Regions from separate parts of the Homo sapiens genome. Here regions 2 and 3 are each linked to region 1. The links come from fine-mapping of genetic effects on gene expression. A gene starts in region 1. Each other region holds a variant in brackets. All regions are shown on one strand. Distances are between the middles of the regions.

Region 1 (8,184 bases):
ACTTTTACACATCTTGAGGTTTTCTGTTTAGGAAGATTCTTACCTACTCAGCTTACATTTTGCTATGGTATTTTCCATCAAAGACCTTAATAGTATTTTACTTTACTCCATTTTAGGATTCTCTTGGTATAATTAAAAATTAGGAGAGGAGTTACCTTATAAGTAGCAATTGTATTTTTTGATAGTTATAGTCTTATTGTATTGTTTTTGTTTATGCCTCATCTATTAACTTTTTTCTTTTTGTTTTGTAGAGATGGGGTCTTGCCACGTTGTCCAAGCTGGTCTCGAATTCCTGGCCTCAAGCCATCCTCTAGCCTAAGCCTCTCAAAGTGCTGGGATGACTCCGGCTTGAGCCACCACACCCAGCCATTCATCCAACTTTTTTTTTTTTTTTGAGAGGGAGTTTCACTCTTGTCGCCCAGAATGGAGTGCGATGGTGCTGCAACCTCCACCTCCCGGGTTCAAGCGATTCTCCTGCCTCAGCCTCCTGAGTAGCTGGGACTACAGGCATGTGCCACCAGGCCAGGCTAATTTTTGTATTTGGTATTTGTATTTGGTAGAGACAGGGTTTCACCATGTTGATCAGGCTGGTCTCTATCTGACCTCAAATGATCTGCCCACCTCAGCCTCCCAAAGTGCTGGGATTACAGGCATGAGCCACCACGCCCTGCCTCATCCGTTCAACTTTAACGTAGGCCTTTGCCGAGAGCTTCATACCCATGTATTAATGTATAATCAAATAGTTACTTTTCATTCCCATCCAGATATCTCAATCTTACTGCAAACTTAATATATCCACAGTCCTAAACGTATCCTTCTCCAAAGCCCTCCTCCAAATCTGGTCTTCCTCCTTTGTTTCCAGTCTTAGTAAATTGTATTGTTACAGGAAATGGGGTTCAGATTCAGACCCCAAGAGAGAGTTTTTAGATCTTGCACAAGAAAGAATTCAGGGCGAGTCCACAGTGCAAAGCAAGTTTATTAGGAAAATAAAGAAAAAAAGAATGGCTACTCCATAGAGCAGCCCTGAGGGTTGCTGGTTACCCATTTTTATGGTTATTTCTTGATGATATGCTAAACAAGGGGTGGATTATTCATTCTTCCCCTTTTCAGACCATAAAGGGTAACTTCCCGACATTCCCATGGTATTTGTAAACTGTCATGGCGCTGGTGGGAGTATAGCAGTGAGGACGGCCAGAGGTCACTCTCGTGGCCATCTAGGTTTTGGTGGGTTTTAGCCGGCTTCTTTACTGCGACCTGTTTTATCAGCAAGGTCTTTATGACTTGCTATCTCATCCTGTGACTTAGAATGCCTTAACCATCTGGGAACGCAGCCAAGTAGGTTTCAGCCTTATTTTACCCAGTGCCTATTCAAGATGGAGTTGCTATGGTTCAAACTCCTCTGACATTATGTATGATCACCATACCACAGCACAAGACAGAAAAGAGACCTTTGATGTCTCACAGATCTAATCACTTCCTAAATCCTTTAGATTATACTTTATGTGTTTTTCTAGAATGTGTTCACTTATTTCTATCTGCTTTCTTAATACTGTACTTGGATTTTTTTGAACTAGGTTAAGAATACAAAAGATGGATAATTTTGTGTGCTCTATAATGCTATTATGTGTATTTTAATTCTTTGAAAAATTAGGGTAATGGGAGATAAGGCTAAAGGCTAAAATGCTAACACACCCAACATGTTTGATCGGAAGAGTTCAAAGGGACCATGTAGACTTGTTTTGAACCCTTTGCTCGAATTTCTCACAGCTATTACACTCAAAACCAGAAAATAGCCGTAATTCTGTCAACACAGAAGAGAACTGTCCAACTGATTTTCATGTTTGTCCAGGCACTCTACTTGGTGCTAAGGAATATGGTGATTGAATAAGATAAAGTTTCCTCCCTGTCTGGAAGCAACTAGACGCTGGGCTTCTCCCAGCGATTCATTATTTGGCACTAAATCTCTGCCTTAATATGAAACGATCCGGCTCATGCCTGTAATCCCGGCACTTTGGGAGGCCGCGGCGGGTGGATCACCTGAGGTCGGGAGTTCGAGACCAGCCTGACCAACATGGAGAAACCCCGTCTCTACTAAAAACACAAATTTAGCTGGGCGTGGTGGCGCATGCCTGTAATCCCAGCTACTAGGGAGGCTGAGGCAGGAGAATCGCTTGAACCTGGGAGGCGGAGGTTGCGGTGAGCCGAGATCGAGCCATTGCACTCCAGCCTGGGCAACAAGAGTGAAACTCCGTCTCAAAAAAGAAAAGAAAAGAAATGATCCCTCACCGAACCGAGCCTCAGTTCAGTGCGAAGGCTCTGATGATACTCTTTTTTTTTTTGAGACGGAGTCTCGTTCTGTTGCCCAGGCTGGAGTGCGGTGGCGCCATCTCGGCTCACCGCAACCCTTTCCTCCCCGGTTCAAGCGAATCTCCTGCTTCAACCTCCTGAGTAGCTGGGATTACAGGCGCGCGCCACCTCTCTTGGCTAATTTTTGTGTTTTTAGTAGAGACGGGGTTTCACCATGTTGGTCAGGCTGGTCTCGAACTCCTGACCTCGTGATCCACCCGCCTCGGCCTAAGAAAGTGCTGGGATTACAGGCGTGAGCCACCGGCCGCTGATGGTATTCTTTCCTGAGGGCAGATTTTCACGCCAGAAGCCCCGACAATTATACCTGAGCTGGTTCCACCTAAGCTCAATCCTCCTTCCCTGCCCCAAGGGGGTGAAAAATCTGGGCCCAGGAGGCCTTCCTTGTGCTCTGGGGGGAGGCATTTAAGGGTCCAAGGAAGACGTGACCGAAATGTAAAGCACTGGACGGCTTACCCAATAAGGGACCCAGCGTTTCTTATTACCCAACATCCCCCTGAGTCTGGCTTTTAGAAAAATATGCAAAGCGTCCGGGCGCAGTGGCTCACGCCTATGATCCCAGCACTTTGGAAGGCCGAGGCGGGCGCGGTCAGGAGTTTGAGACCAGCCTGGCCAATATGGTGAAACCCCGTCTCTACTAAAAATACAAAAATTAGCCGGGCATGGTGGCCCCCGCCTGTAGTCCCTCGGGAGGCTGAGGCAGGAGAATCGCTTGAACCTGGGAGGCGGAGGTGGCAGTGAGCTGAGATCGCACCATTGCACTCCAGCCAGCGCGACAGAACGAGACTCCGTCTCAAACAAAACAAAACAAAAAACAAACTACAAAATTAGCCGGGCATGGTGGCGTCTGCCTGTAGTCCCAGCTGCTTGGGAGGCTGAGGCAGGAGAATTGCTTGAACCCAGGAGGTGGAGGTTGCAGTGAGCCGAGATCGCACCATTAAACTCCAGCCTGGGCGACAAGAGGGAAATTCCGTCTCAGGGGAAAAAAAGAGAAAGAAAGAAAAAGAGGAAGAAAGAGAAAGAAAAATATGCAAAGCAACAAAAAAGAGAGCTAGAAAGATGGAAACAACTCAGAAGACCCTTGCTTAACCCGCGTGCGTCACGGGCTACAGGGGTCGGCCCCTCGAGCTAACCCCCACCGGCGCCTGCGCACTGGCCTGGCCCGCGGCAGGAAGCCCCGGCGTGAGACACTTTCGGATTCCGTGACAACGGCGGGATTAAACGTTTTTCTTCTCCTTTGCTACTGAACCTATGCTGTGACTTAGAACATAAGAAACTCCAAGAGGGTGTAGGGATTGTCTTAGCTGTCTCCCTCCTCCGCCGGCACCGCTGAAGGCAGCCCCTATGGAGGGCGCTAAACCTCGGGGCCCTGGGTTTCTATGACGACAAACAGGCGTTCCAGCAAAGGAGGAAGTGAGCGGATGCTGGGCGGGTACGCAATGTGTGGGTAGGATCGCGGGTGTCCCTTTCCCGTCATTTTAAACCAAGAAGCAGTGCGAGGCCTGCCCAACTCGCGAGTTTGTGGAACTGGCGCGCGAGAGCGCTGCCTGTGGGGAAGGTATGGTCCCCAGCCGAGCCGCCTGCAGCGAGTGTCCCCCACCAGGGGTGCCGGCGGTCTGCGGGGTCCGCCGAGCGGGTCCTTCCTGCCCTGCTCCTTGACCCCGACCTGACGGTCCACTAAGGCTTCTTAGTCGCTACACATAACCCCAGAACATAGAGGTCGCCCCGAAGAAGGAGAACCATGCTAGATGAATTCTAAACTGCGATCTGAACCTAAGTACTCAATAGTTGTCATCTTTTTTTTTTTTTTTAAATCTTTTTTCCTCTGCCTGCAGGACTATGTGGCAGCCTGCAAGTCCCAGTGCGGCGCTGATTTGTGTCTAAATTAGCTTTCCGGAGGACTATTTCAAATTACTAAAGAGATAGGAGGCATTGTTTATTATGTCTCTCCCGAAAACGCCCTCCACCCCGCTAAACTCTACATCAACATCTGAGAGCAAAAAGTTAAAAGTGTCTGTAGCCAAGGAAGGGACAAGAGGTAAACTTCGTTGATTCTGAAGTCATAAACAGTCATGGCCGTAAGACAGAAATCACCTTCCATTCACCGGTTTTTTAAATCTGATATTCAGAATACCTTGATTGGCTACATTTTTCTAACACACTTGCTTAAATAAAGCAAGAAGTCATTCCTTTTACAGTATTTTGAGTCAGAGTACTGTTTCACTACTCCATCTAAATACAGTTTATACTTTTTTTCAAATGTTGATTTATATATGATTTTAAATTCAACCTATTTTAAATATCAATAGTTACGTATTTTTTGGTTCCTGGTCTTTGGCTTTAAGGAACTTTGGAAAAAGTAATAGTGAGGCAGGGCGCGGTGGCTCACGCCTGTAATCCCAGCACTTTGGGAGGCCGAGGTGGGCGGATCACTTGAGGTCAGGAGTTCGAGACCAGCCTGGCCAAATATGATGAAATCCCGTCTCTACTAGAAATACAAAAATTAGCCGGGCATGGTGGCTCGCGCCTGTAGTCCCAGCTTACTCTGGAGGCTGAGGCAAGAGAATCGCTTGAACCCAGGAGGTGAGGTTGCAGTGAGCCAGGATCGAGCCATTGCATTCCAGTCTGGGAGACAAGAGCAAGACCCCATCTCAAAATAAATAAATAAATAGGCCGGGCACAGTGGCTCACACCTGTAATCCCATTTGGGAGGCTGAGGCTGGCGGATCACGAGGTCAAGAGATTGAGACCATTCTGGCCAACATGGAGAAACTCTGTCTACTAAAAATACAAAAATTAGGGGGGGCGTGGTGGCTCGTGCCTGTAGTCCCAGCTACTCAGGAGGCTGAGGCAGGAGAATCGCTTGAACCCGGGAGGTGGAGGTTGCAGTGAGCCGAGATTGCGCCACTGCACTCCAGCCTGGCGACAGAACGAGACTCCGTCTCAAATCACGAGGTCAGGAGTTTGAGACCAGCCTGACCAACGTGGTGAAACCCGGTCTCTACTAAAAATACAAAATTTAGCCTGGTGTGGTGGCACTCGCCTGTAATCCCAGCTACTCGGCAGGCTGAGGCAGGAGAATCACTTGAACCCGGGAGGCAGAGGTTGCAGTGAGCCAAGATCTTGCCACTGCACTCTAGCCTGGGCAACAGAGGTAGACTTGGTCTCAAATAAGTAAATAAAGAAACAAAAAGTAATAGCAGAGATAAGAGAAACTCAATTTAGTACAATGTGCCAATTTGTATTAGCTTTTAGTAATTTTTCTAAATGAGAGCAATTCCTTAAGATTTTCGTTCATATGCGGATCTGTACTAGAGTCAGCTAGTGTTATCCTTACCCGGTTCTGTTAAAGCTTTTCCCATCTCACCTGCACCTTGTACTAAAACCCCAAGCCCCACCCAACTTTTTTTTTTTTCTTCTGTTTCTTTTGATCTCAAGCTCTCAGGAGATTTGGTAATGTAAACCCTAACAACTTTTGATAGTAATCAAAGCATGATACCTCCTTATAGAAATAAACATAAACCATACCATGTTACAGGCATAGATTAAGAAGAATAACAACTCAACCCTACCTGACTGACTTCATAGGAGGGCTTTTCCTACATTATCCCAACTACCTGCCTTTATTACTCCCCTGCCCTAGTCAAGCAGGGTAGAACACTCTTTTTACAGTTCCCATTCCACAGATTTGTCAGCTCAGATTGTTCCACTCTCATTTGCAACAATCCCAGTTCCATCTTTACTTTTAAGCCCAACCCAGAGCCTTTCCACTCTATAAATGCCTCGATTTAATGCAATTATTCTCACCTTTGAATTCATGTAAGAAAAAAATTACTAAATAATTTGACAGCTTGGGGGGAGAGATTTGTGATTTTCATATGAAAGGGAAAATAGACATTCATTCCTGTCTTCTTAAGGCTCTCCCAGTTACCTGAGCAAGTGAAATGAGTTTAGTTTTCAACTTTGAATTGAGAATCATGCAGGTTCATCTTGGTACCTGAGTTTTTGAAACTGTGTCTGATGTAATGTGAGTAGGGTAGGCAAGATGAATGTTATTTTCCTTGACTAGATGATGTTCACTGTTTTCAATATTATTTGTTACTATCTTTGTCAAATAGAAGCAATGTTTCTCTCTGTTAGAAACAGATGGGATTGATGAGGCAGTCTGAGAAGCTCCATCTAACTTAAAAAAATATATAGTAAGAGTTTTTCTTTTCCACTACTTACTTAGGACTTCCTGAGCTAAAGGAGAAAAAAAATATGGTGGATCGTTCAAAACTCCTTCCTACTTCCCTTCAGAATGAGTTCATTCCCAAAGAAGTTCTTCTTTCTCTGACCTATGCGGCCAATGCTGGTCCTTGTCCTGAAAACTTACTACCTCCTAAGAAAATTAAAACCCCAAAGGTTTGTATGTACATATGTAGAGTAATGGGGAACATTATTTTTTGGGCATCTGATTATTCTTTAAGTATTTATTATGCACATATTATATATTCCAGATAGCCTTAAAAATTTTAAGATTGATTGAGACAGGGTCTTACTACTGTGGCCCAGGCTGGAGAGTAGTGGCCTGATCATTGCTCACTGCAGCCTCGACTACCCTGGCTCAGGTGATCCTCCCACCTCAGCTTCCTGAGTAGCTGGGACTACAGGTCTGTGCCACCACACCTGGCTAATTTTTGTATTTTTCATAGAGACGGAGTTTCGCCATGTTGCCTATGCTGGTCTCAAATTCCTGGGCTCAAGCAATCCACCCGCCTTAGCCTCCCAAAGTGCTGGAATTTCAAGTGTGAGCCAACATGCCTGGCCTTAAAAAATTTTTTTAGGCTGTAATCCCAGCACTTTGGGAGGCTGAGGCAGGCAGATCACGAGGTCAGGAGATCAACCATCCTGGCCAACATCATGAAACCCTGTCTCTACTAAAAATACAAAAATTAGCTGGGCATAGTGGCATGCGCCTATAGTCCCAGCTACTCGGGAGGCTGAGGCAGGAGAATCACTTGAACCCGGGAGGCAGAGGTTGCAGTGAGCCGAGATTGCGCCATTGCCCTCCAGCCTGGACCACAGAGCAAGACTCTGTCTCAAAAAAAAAAAATTTAAAATAATTTCTTAGATTGAAAACTCCAGTCTTTTGTATAAATTGTTTCCAAGGCTTGAGTATTTCCATTGACCTGTTTTTATGTGGATTTACTAAAATGATAATTGCTACCCTTAATGTTTTTCACTCACTATAGAATTATTCTAGTTTTAGTCTTTATGTCATTTAATAAGAATTCTGCTCTCTTTTTTCCTTAGAGTACCCAAGTGCCCTTAATGTAAATACAGTACTTACTCAAAACTATTAATACATTTTATTTGATTAGATCGCCCTCTGCTGGATATTCATGTGTATTTGCTTTTTCCCAGGGCACTCTTCCACGCCTTGTAGACCATGTCTGGCATCACCCTGTTCGAAGGAATAAATTCAAATACCTGATTGACCATCCCGTCTCCCTCACAGGAGCTGGAAGGTAAAGAAGGAAGATAGTAGGATAGATGCTGATAAATAGAGTTGTTTTCTCATTTTGAATGATTACCTTGGGAGGGGCAGAATTAGAAAAATCACTGAATCATAGATGATAAAATTTACAGTATCTTTGAATCAGAATACAATCCAGAAGGGCCAAAGACCATCTTTTTGTGTGTGATTATTATCAGTAGGATGGAAATAGGTGCTGGCTTTACATATTTTTGGTTTAAATTTGCTTTTTGCATGCCTTTGTATACTTGTCCCTATACTCTCCTATTCCCTGTTGTACCCTAGTAAAAGGGACAAGATCC
Region 2 (8,184 bases), 850 kb before region 1:
CTCACCCAAAATAACAGAGATAGTAGAGAGGTCAGCTGAGACTATAGTGCAAATCTGCCTATGGCCAAAGCCCTTGCTCTGGAAACAACACTTCCGGGGCTTGCTTCTAGTTATCTTAAAGTGCTTTCTCCACGCTGGCGCCTCCAGCAGGGAGAGGGCTGCCTGCCAAATAGGCAGACACACGCCCATAGGAAGAGGACAGCACGACAAGATGTGATTTGTTAGGAATCGGATCCGGGTGCTGCGGGGTCTGTGAGCCTGAGCTCAAGCCAGTTGGACAGGCAGGGTTGCATGGTTGTGGGGGGCAGGGGGCAGGGTTCCCGTGCAAGGGCCAGATGTTCTCCTCCCCAATCCTGATGTCTGCCAGCCTGAATCTCAGTCTCCTCTTTTTGCAGAGCAAGAACTACAAGGCAGTTTGCCTGGAATTGAAGCCAGAGCCGACCAAAGTAAGAAGCCCTTTTGAGGCCATGCAGGCAGCCAGGCCTGAGATCCATGGGGAAGTGACCAGGAGTCAGGGGTCATTTGCTGATCCTAGTGGCCAAGATTTGTCCCAGGTGCTGGGGGATGCACTGAGAGTTCTTGCTCTCATAGAACTTCACACTGTAACCAATCAGATACATAAACGAACAAGGACTCATTCAGCAGTGTTACCTGCTCTGCTGGGAATCAAGACAGGGAGACATGTCTGAGTGGCTGCCGTGGAGTGGGTGGTAGGGAAAGGCCTTCCTTTGAGCTGAGAGCTGAAGGACAAGACTCTGGCTTTGCAAAGGCAGAGTAAGAGCCTTCTAGGCAGAGGAGGCAGCATGCACTGAGGCCCAAGGTGGGAATGAGCCTGGCTGTTCAAGGGACAAAAGGAGCTGAGGCCCCGTGGGCCAGCAGGGGAGTGGAACAAGATGAGCTGAAAGAGGGAGGAGGATAGAGGAACCTTCTGCACAGGTGGGGCCACCAGCTTTCCTCTTGCCTTAGCCCTAAGGGAGGAACAGAAACACAGGGGGATCTCTTCTGCCTCTGCACTTCCACCGCCCATCTGCAATTCCCAAAGGTCTGTGTTCCTGTTTCAATCCACAGACATTTGATTACAAAGCAGTTAAACAAGAAGGGCGGTTTACCAAAGCAGGAGTGACACAGGACCTAAAGGTGAGTGCGTGAACTTGGAGGCATGTCTATATTCCAAACCACGTGAGTGTAAGTTTTCCCCAAATCCTCAGTGCCTGTTTCCTAAATACAAGAATATCCTCTTACATAGGCACAGTGCAATTATCAAAATCCAGAAGTTAACACACAGACAATACTCATCTATAGCCCTTGTTCTAATTTCACCAGTTGTCCCACACATGTGTTGCATAACAACAGAAAGGGGACGTTTTCTGGTCTAGGGTCTGATCCAGGATCACACATTGCCTCGAATTACCAGGTGTCTTTTCTATAATCTGGAACAGAACAGTTCTTTTTCTTTGGGTACACTGACATTTATTTATTTTTATTTTATTTTTTGAGACAAGGTCTCCCTCTGTCGCCCAGGCTGGAGTGCAGTGGCATGATCTAGGCTCACTGCAACCTCCAACTCCCAAGTTCAAGCAATTCTCCTGCCTCAGCCTCCCGAGTATCTGGGACTATAGGCGTGCACCACCATGCCCAGCTAATTTTTGTATTTTTAGTAGACACAGGGTTTCACCATATTGGTTTTGAACTCCTGACCTCAGCTGATCTGTCTGCCTTGGCCTCCTGAAGTGCTGGGATTACAGGTTTGAGCCACTGCACCTCGTCTGGGGACATTGACATTTTTACAGATTACAGATCACTTATGTTGTGGGATAACCCTCAATTTGGCTTTGTCTGTTGGATTCCTCATGATGAGATTCAGGCTGTGCATTTTTTGGCAGAGACACATGATGCCTGTAGGTCCCACTATCTTATAGTCTTTTTAAAACATTAATTAATTAATTAATTTTGAGATGGGGGTGGGGGTCTCGCTATGTTGCCCAGGCTGGTTTCAAACTCCTTGTTTCAAGTGATCCTCCCGCCTTGGCCTCCCAAAGTGCTGGGATTACAGGTGTGAGCCAGTGCACCTGGTCTATCCTATTGTCTCAACAACATCTTTTCTTTCCTCCCTATTGAAAGCTTTTCTCTGACAGTGTCCCAGGATCTTTCCTTTCCTCCTGTTGATGGTTTCCCCTCCATCCTAGATATTTCTTTCCTCCTTCTCTTCTCCATTTTATTTCCTCAGAATGAACTCAGGGAAGTGAGAGAAGAGCTCAAGGAGAAAATGGAGGAGATAAAACAGGTAAGAAGATGAGGCCTTCCATATCATGGAGGGAAAGTGTAGCTTCAGGAAAAATGCAATCCTTAAGTTTGAATAGTGAAGGAAAGCAGGAATTGCATGGAAAAATGTAACTCAGTCCTAATACCCAGAGCACTTCAGTATTAGGTTATTCACTTCTTACTTGTTTGATGCCTAAACCCAATTTTTGAGTGACTGAGGACTCCCTAAAGTGTCTCTTTGGTAAGGGTGGGTGATGTCACCTTAGTGATGAAGCTGAGTAAGAGGGGCTGATTTGGAATATGAATTTAGGGGAAGTCAGGGACCAACCCCATCTTCCTTATTCACTTCCCCTGAGCAAGTTGCAAAGCAGGAAACCTCTCATTTCTATGATACAACCAACCAACCACCTGTAGCATCCTTAGGAAAAAAGCGAATAATCGAGCAAGAAAGTGTAATCGAAGCTGTGGTTCAAGCTCCACATGCAGTCTTGCAGTAGCCAGATCTAAGCCGTGCCAAGGCTGATGGTGGTGGTGACTTGATGGTGCTTGCACCCTAGTCCCTTCACAGACTCCTTGAGAAGAAAGTGGCTCTAACAGGCCATTATTAGTCCATGCCAGAGAAGCAGCCACTGCCCTTTGCTTAAAATGCCTGAAAGATGCCACAACTAACCTCAATAACATGCTCTGTGCTTTGTCAAGCCATGCCTTTCTTCCTTGTTAGATAAAGGATCTAATGGACAAGGATTTTGATAAACTTCACGAATTTGTGGAAATTATGAAGGTAAGCATTACTTGAGTGCCTTCCATGGGCCAGTACCATACTGGAAACTGTGGAAGAGACACCAGCAGACCCTGCCCTCCAGGAGCTTATTATCTACTAGTAGTCCCATATTCCATTGCAAGAAAGCATTGCAAGCCAAATAATTAATTCGTTGTTTGCTAGTTAGGGGCTTAGAGACATGAGAAATGAATGCGGGTTGGAGTAAGCAGCGAAGTCCTTACAGAGAAAGTGAGTCTCAAGTTGAGCCTTGAAGACTGCATGGGAAGCTTAATGCAAATCTCATCAAGAGCCCAGTAAGATTCTTTTTTAACTCAAAAAATTACTAGGATGATCTAGATTCTAGAGCAGTGATTGACAACATGTGGTGTGTTTCAGAATCACCTGGAACACTAATAAAACAGAGCCTGGGCTCATGTTCAGATGGTGCTGGGCCCTTGTAGTTTAGACAAGTTCCCAGGGGAAAGACTGAGAAGCATAAGCTGGCAAAAGCAAATAGGTACCCATTTTTCAAGAGTTGTAAGGGGACATTAGCCTTACCAGATATTAAAATTCACGATAAAAACAAAGTTATTAAATCAGCCCAACGATAACCAAACACATGAATGAAATGGGATAGATAACGCCTCAACAGCCTCTCTGCCTGGGATGTAATGAGAATCAGTTGTGAGAATTTTAAAACTCCATTTACTTAGACCCTTTCCCAGAGGAACTGAATAAAAATCTCCAGGGTGGGCCGGAGTTGCTTAAAACTCCGTTTAGATTCAGATGCTTGCCTGTGGATGAGAACCAGGTCCTAAACACTTTAGCAGCAGTTACTAACCTTGGCTGCACATTATAATCACCTGGAAAGCCTTTCACCTATGCCCTCCCCATCCAGGCTACACCTCATAACGATTAAGTCAGAAGCTCTTAGAATGAGGTCCAGACGCCAGTGGGTTTTAGTTGCCCAGGTGATTCCAGTGTATACTCAAGTTGAGAATCACAGCTCTATAGAATTTACAATATGATAAAGGTGATTTTTTGATGTCAGTCAGAAGGAAAGGATTAGGTAGTAATATTAGAAACATTGCTTGACTATATGAAGAAAAAACTTAAGCCAGTTAACACTGTAAAGCTAAATAGTCTATGAAGTGATTTTAAATAATAAAAACCAATAAGAAGAAATGTTAAGTAAATATGTAAATAGAAGTTCTAAATATAAATACAATGGAAGAAATTACAAAGGACATATTGATATATTTAACTATGTAAGATTTTTTTAAAAGAATTATGACAGAAAAATCACTTACATTTACAGAATTAAAGAAACTGTTTGGGGGAACATTTTTCCAAAAATATAAGCACAGAAAAAAGGTTTTTATCCATAACATATAAAGTTCACATAAATCAATAAGAACTAAGTAGGAAAATAGACGAGTGTGAACAGACAATCCACAGAAGAGAATATAACTAAAAAGCAATAAACATATTAACAAAGGCCTGACCTCATAATTAAATACATGCAAATGAACAATCAATTATTGTTACACTCAAGCAAAATTTTAATTTATTACAATTACAGTATAAGACATATAAATGCTCTTATACTGTTAATTAGAGTGCAAATTTGTACAAAACTGGAACATTGTTAGACAATAGATATAAAAAAATCAACCTCTTGATTTGTCAATTTCACTTCTTAGAATTTAACCTATGAGAATAATCAGAAACGCCATCATGGGTATACATAAAAAGATGTTCATGACAGGATTATTTGTAATAATAAAAATTTGGAAACGACCTCAATTTTCAACAGTAGGGGAATGGCCAAATAAATTATGAAATACTTATATAATAAAAGTTAGGAACTATTAAAGACAATGTTTAGAAAGAATATTTATAATAAGAACTAAAAAAGCAAGA[T/C]ACAAGTAATATACATAGGCTGATCTCAGCTAGGTTAAAAAAAATAAGCAAATATATAGAAAAAAGACTGGAAAGAAATATACCAAAGGGGTTCATAGCAGTTATTTCTGGATGAGAATATTCATACTTTTATATCCCTCTGTACTGTCCAAATTTTCTACAAAGGGCATGCATTAATTATTTCTCTGTTAAAATCCAAACAAAGTTAAGTGTTTTGTTGGTGGGGAGGCTGGGTATGGAAAGGCACAAAGGAGGCGATTTCAGGCAGGGGAACCCCTTAAGCAGGGCAGGAGGCAGGAGGAGTATGTTGTATATGGTGGTCAGCACGGGGATCAGTCATGAAGTGGGACCACTGGGGGAAACTGTGAGGGAAAAAAAAAATGAATGGGCACAAAGGCTGTAGGTAATGATGGCTTTTGAAAGACATGCAGACAAGCTAGGACTTGGTTCTGTGAGCAGCAAGAGGCCTCTGGAGATTCTTAATCAAAGAACATTCTGGGAGGAGCACTTCAAAAAGCTTAGCCCGGCAGGTTTTGTTTGCAAGGCGGCCTGGGTGGGGCCCAGGGAGCAGGTGGAGATGTCTGACAGCAAGAACACCACAGCTGGACCAGGTGTAGGGAAAGAAGGAAGAGATAAATCTGAAAGATGCACTGAGGGAAAAATAACAGTTCCTGGTGACTGATTCAATATGGAGACTGAAGTCTTGAGAGGCAAGCGTCCGTGATGACACCAAATTTTAATCTGGTTGATTAAAAGAAAGTGGTGACGATGACAATGACAGTGGGGAGATAGAGGTAGCTTGGGAAAATGAAATCAGTTTGGAACATGATGATTTTGAAGGGGTACATGTTGGTGAAACGTGTAAGAATATGGGACATTTTGACTCTGATGTTTTGGACCTAGGGGACATTGACTTCAAGGATATTTTGACTCTATGAATACAAATATTTTATTCAAATTTGTACTAACATTTAAAAATGCTTTTCAAGAAGGTATTTTATGAAATCATCTCTATGCAGATGGTGTAATTTCTTGATCAATTTTCTATAGTACATCAATTAAACTGTTACCAAATCTTTCATTTTTAATGAAAATTATTTTATTGGAATAAATTGTTTTTATTTCTGTTTTATGACAACCCAAACCTGTTTTTCTCTGTGACAAATATTGTCAGTTATAGCTTCTACCATCTTAGAATTTTTCTCATGTCCACTATTTCCATTCAATTTACCCAGGTCACATTTTATAGATCAAAACTTTGTCAAGATTTTATTATTCCTTCTGTTCTGAGCGAATAATACGTGTGATGTATCCCTTTAGCTGCTGTCATTTTACTTTTTGTTGACCATCTTTGCCAGGAATTAGGTAAAAGATGAAGCAAACATAAATATGCAGGATCTGGGTGCATGCCAAGGGTCAAAACATTGCAGTCAAATTGTCTTTGGGGTCACAAGATTGGTCTTCTTGGTTCCATCATTTTATAGGCATCAAACCAAGGCAAGCATTGGTTTTATCCAAAGTGTGAGATCAGATAAAACAGTAGCTGGCCTCTGGCTCACCTAGAGACTTCAGAAAAGTCCCCTAATGTCTCTGCCTGTGCTTTCGTCTCATTGGGGAAGGGGGATGAGGAAGGGGAGAAGCTGTACATGTCACGGACACTCCAAAAGCCACCTCACCCAAGTCTAGCGAGGATTCTTGAGGAAGTAAGATGCAGAATGGTTTGCAGAGAGGCAGGAGGAAGGTATTTCCAAAGTCCTTCAAAATGAAGATGCTAGTTCTGAATTCTCTCTCGAAGGAAATGCAGAAAGATATGGATGAGAAGATGGACATTTTAATAAATACACAGAAGAACTATAAGCTGTAAGTGTAACCTGCACTCGTCTCTCCTCATCCCTAAAGGGTCTCCTCCCTTCCCTTTGTTGGATCCCTTTGGGGTTCAGAGGACACCCAGACTCTTGGAGGAGTTGTCTTTGCTCCTACTGCCCCTGTGACTTGGAGTCAAGGCCTTCCATGGCCACCCGTGTACTGGTTATCTCCTTGTCATGCTGCAAAATGTCTCCCCAACTCTCTGCCCCTCCCTGGCCCTCCTCCCCCAGTCCCCTTAGAAGAGCACCAAAGGAGCAGCAGGAACTCAGGCTGATGGGAAAGACTCACAGAGAACCACAGCTCAGGCCCAAGAAAATGGATGGAGCCAGTGGAGTCAATGGAGCACCCTGTGCTCTTCACAAGAAGACGATGGCACCACAAAAAACAAAACAGGGCTCACTGGATCCCCTTCATCACTGTGGGACCTGCTGCGTAAGTGAAACCCTGCCCGAGCCCAGCACTGGTGCCAGACCCCTGGCTCCGGCTCCCTGGTGACTTCCCCGAGCTTGTGCTGTATCATAGTGAAGGGACAGGTCCGCCCGCTGCTGACTTCTGGGTGCCGCCCGAGCCTGCGCCCTCCCTGACCTGCCTTGCCTTCTAGGCCTGTGGAGCCTCCTTAGCTGTGACCATGCAGGACTTGACCCTGGATGGGCCTACCCGCCAGCTCCACCCTCTTATTCTGTCCTTCCCTTTAGCAAGGGCAGATAAGGTGCCTAGCAGGCTGCCCTTCTTGGACCAGGGGAAATTGATCTTTCTTGTGCCGTTTCTGTCCTCTGCAGGAGAAATGTTTGTTGTGTGCTCTAAAGAACAACTACAATCGGGGTAGGTAGATTCATACAAGATGTGCCTTTTCTCGATCAGGTGCCTTGTTGTCCCCAAGGCCATGTGCTCCCAGCCGCATTCACATCACACCCCTCCTGAGGTTGTGCCAGGAGTAGGGACTGTTAGCAGATGCTGCCACCCAGCATGCTCAGTCATACAGGATGTGGCACCAGGAAGGAGGACTTGGGTCACCCAGCCTAGAGGCTGCTGCCTGGGGCTCCCATGGTGGGGAGGGTGCACCACTAGTGGCGGAACTGACCTTGCCTCAGGTCCTGCCCTTTCTCCCCATCCAGTGGGAAATATTCACACCAGGTCTGGGCACCCTTTTCACCCTTGGCTTCTGGAGCTGCCTTCTGATTTATCTGTACCTCAACCCCGGTGACATCGAATATGTGTTTCCAACCTAGCGCAGCTGCAGAACCTACCAGCAGTTCCGATTCATCACCTCCAAGCTCCTTAAGATGCACAGTCAGGGCTTCTTGTCCTGTTAAATACCACCCCAACCCCAGGCCTCCACTGGAGATTAAAAACCTTCATTCAAAGCCAAAGGG
Region 3 (8,184 bases), 160 kb after region 1:
ACTCCTGGGCTTAAGTGATCCTCCTGCCTCAGCCTCCAGAGTAGCTGGGACTATGGCATGCACCACTGCACCTGGCTATTTTTCTATATAACTTTATAAGCTAGTTCTTAAAAATAAGATTTTTTAAAACTAGCATAATATTAAATTTATATATTAACTTAGAGTAGACATGTTTATGATGCTGAATTGTATTATCCAAGAATATGGAATATAGGATGTCTACTTTTATGCCTTTAAATCATATCTTATTTGTTTGCTTATTTTGTACGTTTCTTATTAGGTTTATGCCTGAATATTTTATTTTTTGCTATTTTAAATGAGACATTCTTTTCCATTATATCTTCTAACTAGTAACTGTATATATATATACAGTTATATATATATACAGCATATTTATATATATTATATATATACAGACTATATATATATAATCAATTTCTGTATTTTAATTTAATTTAATTTAATTTTGTTTTATTTTTTGAGATTGGATCATACTCTGTCACCCAGGCTGGAGTTCAGCGGTCCAGTTATGGTTCACTGCAGCCTTGACTTCCTGTGCTCAAGAAGTCCTCCCACCTCAGCCTCCGGACTATGTGGGATTATAGGTGCGTGGCACCATGCCTGGCTAATTTTTAATTTCGCAGAGACAGGGTCTTGCTATGTTGCCTAGGCTGGCTTGAATTCCTGGGCTCAAGTGATCCTCCTGCCTCAGCCTCCCAAAGTGCTGGGCTTACAGATGTTCACCACCATTCCTATTTTAATTTTATATGCTGTGACTTTACTAAATTCTCTTACTGTATTTCTCTCTCCTCCTCCTGCTGCTCTTCCTCTTACTGTTTTTAGTAGTTTTTCAGTGGATTCTTTGGGGTTTTCTAGATACTTAATCAAATCACCTACAAATAGGGATAGTTTTACCTCTTTCTTTTCAATTCTGATACTTCTAGTTGCTTTTTCTTTTTTAATTATATTGAATAATTCTTCTAATTCAATATTAAATAGTAGTGGAGATAACAAGCATCCTTTTCTTGTTTCTGACTTTAGCAGGAATGCCTTTAGTGATTTACCTTTAAGAAATATGCTGGCATTGGAGCTGATTTATAATTTAATTTATTTGTTCTTTCTTCAAAAGTCTCAGATATCCACCTTGGGTCATTTGTCTTCTACCTTAACCTGTAGAATTTTCTTTAGTGAAGATATCCTGGTGGCAAACTCAGTTTTTGTTTGTCTGAAAATGCCTTTATTTCACCCTCATTCTTACATTTTTTTTTTTTTTTTTTTGCTGGGTATGCTATTGATTCTGGGATGGTATTCTTTTCTCTCAGCACATCGTTATTATTTTTACTGTTTTCTGGATTTTGTTGTTATTGAACTGACCATTGAGAATCCAGCTGTCAGTTCCTTTGAAGTGAATTCATCTCTTCTCTCTATTTTTAAGGTCGTCTTTTTGTCTTTGCTCTGATTAATGTGGAGATGGATTTTCTTTTCTTTTAAATTTTGCTTGGGATTCTCTTGATTTCCTGAATCTTTAATTTGGTATCTTTTGTTAGATCTGGAAAATTCTCAGTCATCTATTCAAATATTGCCTCTACTGCATTTGCTCTCTTCTTTCCTTCTAGAACTCTAAATGAATGTGTGTTGGAATCAATCCCCCATGTCTCTTAACCTTCTTTCATATTCTCTCTCTATTTCTCTGCATTGCATCCTGAATAATTTTTCTGGCTTACTATCCAGTTCACTAATTTGCCCTCCAATTGAATTTCATCTGCCATTAAACCTTTCTGTTGAGTTTTTAAATTAAATTGCTGAAGTCCTATTTGATTCTTTTTCAAGTCTCATCATTTTTGTAATCTTTCTGTCTTTGCTCATATTTTCAATCTCTTATTTCTTTAAATAGGTTAAGTATAACTTTTGTAGTCTGTTTGATAATTCTAATATATGATGTATCTGTATAAGAATGTTTATTACAGCATAGTATAATAGCAAAATACTAGAAACAATATGAATGTTGATCAGTAGGAGATTAGTTAAATACAACATGGTACATTGAAATAATGGAATTCTATGCAGATAAAGTAGATGTTTAAGTAGTTAAATAAATATAATCCATGATATATTATTGAGAAAAGCAGATTATAGAATATAAGATATATTATCTCATTTATATTAAAATGTTTATAGATGCAAAAAGCAGTCTAGCAGAATATTCAGCAAATGATAAAAATTGTTAACTCTGAGAGTTAAGATTCTTAATTCCTCTGTAGTGTTCAAATATTTTATAGCAAGAATGTTATCAAGAAAAAAAGTATTTTCATTTTGTAAAAATATCCTAATTTTTTAGTCACATTGTGACTATTTTTCTATACTGTACACATATTTCTATAGCATAATTTAACATTGCTATAAAGTATTTTGTTATATGGCTTACACCATAATTTATTTGTGCATTTTCCTATTGTGGGCATTGAGCTTATTGCTAGCTTTTGCTTTTATAAATATTGCTGCTGTAAACACCCAGAGGATGTTTTTAAATCTATATGAGTAGACTCCTTTGAGGTGTTCAATACTGATGACTCCTTCTTTCTTCTCTTTTGGCTTTCCTCGTGGCCTCTCATACTTCAGAGGCTACTTCTGGCTGCCTTTTCAGGCTCCTCTTTCTTCCCTAGCATTTTATTTTTTTCAGAGGTTTGAAAATCTATTATTGTTTTCCTTGAGTATAGGCTTTTGATTTCATCTGATTGTTTTTGTTTTTTTTTTTTTGAGGCAGCAATTTCCTATTTATTTATTTTAATTGACAAATAAAAATTGTATATATTTATTGTGTACAACATGATGTTTTGAAGTATGTGTACAATGTGGAGTGGCCAAATTATTTTTCTAAAAATAACAGCTTTATTGAGACACAATTCATGTAATATGTACAATTCAGTAATAGTTTGTGGTATATTCACAAAGTTGTACAGTGATAATCACTATTGAATTCCAGAACATTTTAATCATTCCCAAAAAGAAAATCCATACTGGTTAGCAGTCACTCAAATTTCCCCTTTCTTCTCAGGCCCTGGAAACACCACACGGTTTCTGGCTCTATGGATTTGCCTATTCTGGACATGTCATGTAAATGGAATTATATAATATGTGGCCTTTTGTGCTTATTTCCCTTAGCATAGTGTTTTCAGAGGTCAGCCACATTGTTGCCTGCATCAGAACATCATTCCTTTTTTTTTCCCAATAGGTTTTTGGGGAACAGGTCATAGTTGGTTACATGAGTAAGTTCTTTAGTGATAATTTCTCAGATTTTGGTGCACCCATTACCCAAGCAGTGTACACTGTACCCAATGTGTAGTCTTTTATCCCTCCTCACCTCCCACCCTTTTCCCCTGAATCCCCAAAGTCCATTGTATCATTCTTATGGCTTTGCATCCTCATAGCTTAGCTCCCACTTATGAGTGAGAACGTACAATATTTGGTTTTCCATTCCTGAGTTACTTTACTTAGAATAACAGTCTCCAAATGCCATTATTTCATTCCTTTTTATGGCTGAGTGGTATTCCATGGTGTATATATACCACATTTTCTTTATTCACTCATTGATTGATGGGCATTTGGGCTGGTTCCATATTTTTGCAATTGTGAATTGTGCTGCTATAAACATGCATGTAAAATTATCTTTTTCATATAATGACTGCTTTTTCTCTGGGTAGATACCCAGGAGTGGGATTGCTGGATCAAATGGTAGATCTACTTTTAGTTCTTTAAGGAATCACTACACTGTTTTCCATAGATCCCTAGCATTTTATGTAACTGGGTTACTGTCTAATTCTCTGGCTACTTCACAAGTTTGCCTTTAGGATATAATTTACTTTCTTGGCTTTAATTAAAGGCAGATGACTGTCAGATCTCTATTTTTAGCCCAAATTCTTCCATCTTAAACTCCAGATCCATATATTCACCTTCTTGCTGGGTATTTTCACTTGGGTATCTCAGTGGTACCTCCAACTCTCACAGCCTAATCTGAACTCATCTCTCTCTCCAAACCTATTTATCCAGTTTTGTTCATTGTCTCTGTGAATGGCATTGTCATCTCTCTAGTGGTCTAAACTGTAAACTAAGTGTCATTCAAGATGCACATTTTCTCTAACCATCCCGTGTCCATCCAGTCAATCACTAGGACTTGCCTCTTAAATATCTCTTAAATCCTCCTTTTCCTTCTCTTCATTCCC[G/A]CAGCCACTGTTTTGTTCACGCTCCTTTTCTCTTCCTCTGCTTCCCTTTCTTCCTCTTCTTTAAAGCTATTCTCCTGTTGCTAGAATGATTGTTTTGAAATGCAAAGCAAATCAACCAATTTATTAGAGCCTCATTGCCTTCAGGATAAGAGCCAATCATCTCCCTGGCTTGACAGTCTAGCCCTTTCTCTCTGATTGCACTCCTATTCATTTGTCTCCCAGTTTTTGTCCTATTGAACTATGCTCTCTCAGATCCAATCATGTGCATGGAACATCCTCTGCCCAGAGCTGCTTCTTTTCCTTCCCCATCCTTCAAGAAAAAAACTCAAACATTATCTCCTTCAGGAAACCTTCCTAACCAACTCCCTCTTTTACCCAGTCCACTACCTGGTCTAAATTAGGTGCTCCTACTATGTGAATGTATGCATTCATTGTATTTTCTTGTCCGTGAAATTAATAAGTTTCTTAAGGACAGGGACTATTCTTATCAACCTTTGTATCCTTGTCACTAGCACAGTACCCAGCTGCAGGATTAGTGCTCATTAAATATTTTGAACAAATAATTGCTAATATTTATATACACCCTTTAATCATAATATTGGTTCATCTCACAGGAGGCTGTAAAAGAATTCATTGAGCCTGAAATAGACGAGTCTTTTAAAGAAGATGAAGAAGAAAGTAAGGAGGATAGGAAACTTCAGGAGGAAAATAAAGAGAGAGCAGAAGAAGTAAGATTATTTGGTATTTGTTTTTCCTCCTACATACATACATACATACATACATACATATATTTTAGAGACAGGGTCCTGCCCTGTCACCCAGGTTGGAGTGCTGTGGTATCATCATAGCTCACTGTAACCTCGAACTCTGGGGCTCAAATGATCCTCCTGCCTCAGCCTCTTGAGTAGCTAGGACTACAGGCATGCACCACCATGCCTAGCTAATTTTTAAAATTTTTTTTATAGAGATGGGATCTTGCTATGCCCAGGCTGGTCTTGAACTGGTCTCAAGCGATCCTCTTACCTCAGCCTCCTAAAGTGCTGGGATTACAGATATGAGCCACCATGCTTGGACCATATATATATATATACACAGACATATATAGTGGGGGGAAAATTATAGACACACACAGACAGTGGAGAATAGAAGTAGGTGGTCTGGAGTGAACTCCAGTTTCCTTCTTTTCCTCATATAGATTTAGCCAAACCTGCAGAAATATTTATCTTTGTCACTTTATTTTCAGAGGAAGGGAATGTTCCTTTTCCCTTCTAAATCCAGCCATTTCCCATTAGCCTCATTTATACTTTTATTCCTATTAACTACACAATCTACTTCTCACTCTGGTACTATTTTTTTAGCCCTTCATTGCCACATTTTTTCAGATAACACTTTAAAACTCCATATTTCTACTTCTTCAGCTCCCATTCTGAGCTGCCTTTTGCCCTCCTCCCAGGCCCATCACCAGACCTCTCCTCTCTTTACCCCGTCTCAACCCCCGCAGGGGCATTTGTAGTAATAAAAACCCTTCCTGGGACATTTGTAATAATAATAATAATACGATGATTACCAAAAATTGAGTGCCTATCATGAGTGATATACTTTGCACATATTATCTCTTATCTATGCAACACAACTTCAAGGTTTATATTATTGCCCCCATTTTACAGATAAGAAAACTGAAGCTCAGAGAGGTTGACTGATTTACTCAAAATCATATAGCTGTAAGTGGCAGAACCGATATTCAAACCCAGTTAAGTCTGGCACAAGACCCCTTGCTAATTCTTAGATTGACTACTACTGCCTTTGGCTTCCTAGAACTCATGATTGCCTAACACTCTCTACAATGTCTTGATTTACTTCTTTGATATATTTCTTCTCTGTATATAGTTTAAGTGTTGGCATGACTCCAGGCTCTGAAATAGGTCTTCTACTCACTGCACAGGCAGGACAACAGAACAAAAATATTATATAACACCCAAGCCTATTTCAATCAGCATTTTCTGTTTTATTTCTGGTAAAGTGCTTGGTATGTAGAAGGCACAGAATAAATGGAAATTGTCAGAGGTGTCTTAACCAGAGTGACTCCATCTTGAATAAAGTCCAGATAAAGCAAAACCTACTGGGTTACTTTCCCAGGAAATTGGACACTCTTAGTCACAAGATGTTTATGGTTGAGGAAACGAGTTAATGGAAAAAGGCATTCTCAGTTTAAAAATGGGTTTCACTTTAAAGATAATGGTACTGTTACAGGAAAGGTGTCATGATTCAGAGCCCAGGAGAGGATTCTTGGATCTTGCACAAGAAAGAATTCAGAGCGAGTTTGCAGTCCAAAGTGAAAGCAAGTTTATTAAGAAAGTAAAAGAATAAAAGAACAGCTACTCCATAGACAGAGTAGCCTTAAGGGCTGCTGGTTGCCCATTTTCTTGATGATATGCTGAACAAGGGGTGGATTATTCATGCCTCCCCTTTTTAGACCATATAGGGTAACTTCCTGACATTGCCATGGCATTTGTAAACTGTCATGGCGCTGATGGGAGTATAGCAGTGAGGACAACCAGAGGTCACTCTTGTGGCCATTGTGGTTTTGGTGGGTTTTGACCGGCTTCTTTACTGCAACCTGTTTTATCAGCAAGGTCTTTATGACCTGTATTTTGTGCTGACCTTTTGTCTCATCCTATGACTTAGAATGCCTTAACCATCTGGGGAGGCAGCCCAGTGGGTTTTAGCCTCATTGTACCCAGCTACTCTTTAAGATGGAGTTTTTCTGGTTCATACGTCTCTGACAGTATACTCATAAATTATTGCTGAAGTCAACAGTTACACTAGAGAATAATAATACTAATAGCCTGTCACAAGCTGATCACCAGCCTTTATAATAAAGTACACTATTCTTAGTGTTAATATCCTATATAAGCAAGCATTATGTTTATGTTAAGGGCATTTCTCCTCTTGCTTTCTGAGGATACCCAACTCTGTAATAGAGTAATTTCTAGTAAACTGCTTTTACTTTACTATACTCTGAGACTCACCCTGAATTTTATCCTGTGTGAGATCGAAGAACCTGCTCTTGGGGTCTGGGATAAGACCCCTTTTCTGGTAACAAAACCATTACTACTGCAACTACTGCTATTACTACTACCACCTGTAGACTTAGTTGAGCCCCTGTCCTCTCTATTTTACAAGCACCTGTTCGGCCTTTAAATATCACTTTCTCTGTTAATAATTCCTGAAGTACCTAGGAAGAAGGCATGACCCTTTTCTGGGTGTGCACAGCCCTTGGAGCACACTTTTATGCTAACAGTAATCATGTTATACCATAATTATTCATTTTATTATCTATCTCTCCTATAGTACTGTCAGTTCCTGGAAGCTGGAAGAAATCCTCTTTGTTTTTCCCATAGTTATATCCCCTTGTCCACACTCCCCATCCTACCAGTTTTTCACAGCGTTTGCTATGTGAAAGTCTTCAAAAATTCTTGTTGTGTGATTAAAGGAAATGGAAAATGTAAGCTTCCAACATGGTGCCAGGAAACTTGCTACCGTGCCAGGAAACTTGCTGGGGTGCTACACCAGCTTGCTAACAGGTCCGCATGTTTCTGTGTTCTAGCAACCTTCAACATCTACAGAGAAGGAAAAACTCATTCGATTCATTGGAGAAGATGAAAATGTTCATTCCAAACCTCTATTTGAAACAGATGTGTTGTCTTCCTGGGTATGTATCTGAAACCCAGCTAGGGAATTCAACACTATTTAACATTGCATAAAAATGATATGGTGCTAACATAACTTTTAGCTACTCTAAGGGGACCAGGGATTCCTAAGTCATGTATTTTACAGATATTTTTCTTCCAACATAATTCCTGGAAAACTCCTTTTTTCACCGTAACTTTACAAAAGCTTCTCATTCTCATCTTTAAACCTCTTTTTTTTTTTTTTTTTTTTGACAGAGTTTTGCTCTGCCTCC

Alleles and levels. Positions count from the first base shown, and alleles are read on the strand shown. Sizes are in standard deviations (SD) of each study's normalised expression.
In carriers of allele T in region 2, the expression in hippocampus of the gene that starts at base 3,767 in region 1 tends to be higher than with C alone (moderate effect, 0.65 SD a copy in GTEx).
With allele A in place of G in region 3, the expression in testis of the gene that starts at base 3,767 in region 1 is higher (small effect, 0.30 SD a copy in GTEx).

The links. PIP is the estimated chance that this variant, and not a neighbour inherited with it, causes the effect.
Region 2: its variant is the best candidate, but not a certain one, in a credible set for the expression of AXDND1 in hippocampus (GTEx, PIP 0.69).
Region 3: its variant is the best candidate, but not a certain one, in a credible set for the expression of AXDND1 in testis (GTEx, PIP 0.75).

What each region holds. Positions count from the first base shown.
Region 1 is chr1:179,362,205-179,370,388 of GRCh38, forward strand. It overlaps AXDND1 (axonemal dynein light chain domain containing 1), which reads left to right and starts at 3,767. Exons shown (of 26, transcript NM_144696.6): 1 at 3,767-3,796; 2 at 4,200-4,402; 3 at 6,596-6,768; 4 at 7,771-7,874. The coding sequence starts at 4,306. RefSeq lists enhancers at 3,318-3,717, 4,098-4,167.
Region 2 is chr1:178,513,632-178,521,815 of GRCh38, forward strand. It overlaps TEX35 (testis expressed 35), which reads left to right. Exons shown (of 9, transcript NM_032126.5): 2 at 396-446; 3 at 1,069-1,137; 4 at 2,228-2,284; 5 at 2,984-3,043; 6 at 6,741-6,805; 7 at 7,042-7,243; 8 at 7,591-7,633. Among named protein-coding and RNA genes, the nearest start is that of TEX35, 4.6 kb to the left of the region's middle. The variant T/C (reference allele first, on the strand shown) is at 4,946.
Region 3 is chr1:179,520,500-179,528,683 of GRCh38, forward strand. It overlaps AXDND1 (axonemal dynein light chain domain containing 1), which reads left to right. Exons shown (of 26, transcript NM_144696.6): 22 at 4,835-4,948; 23 at 7,828-7,932. Among named protein-coding and RNA genes, the nearest start is that of NPHS2, 51 kb to the right of the region's middle. The variant G/A (reference allele first, on the strand shown) is at 4,221.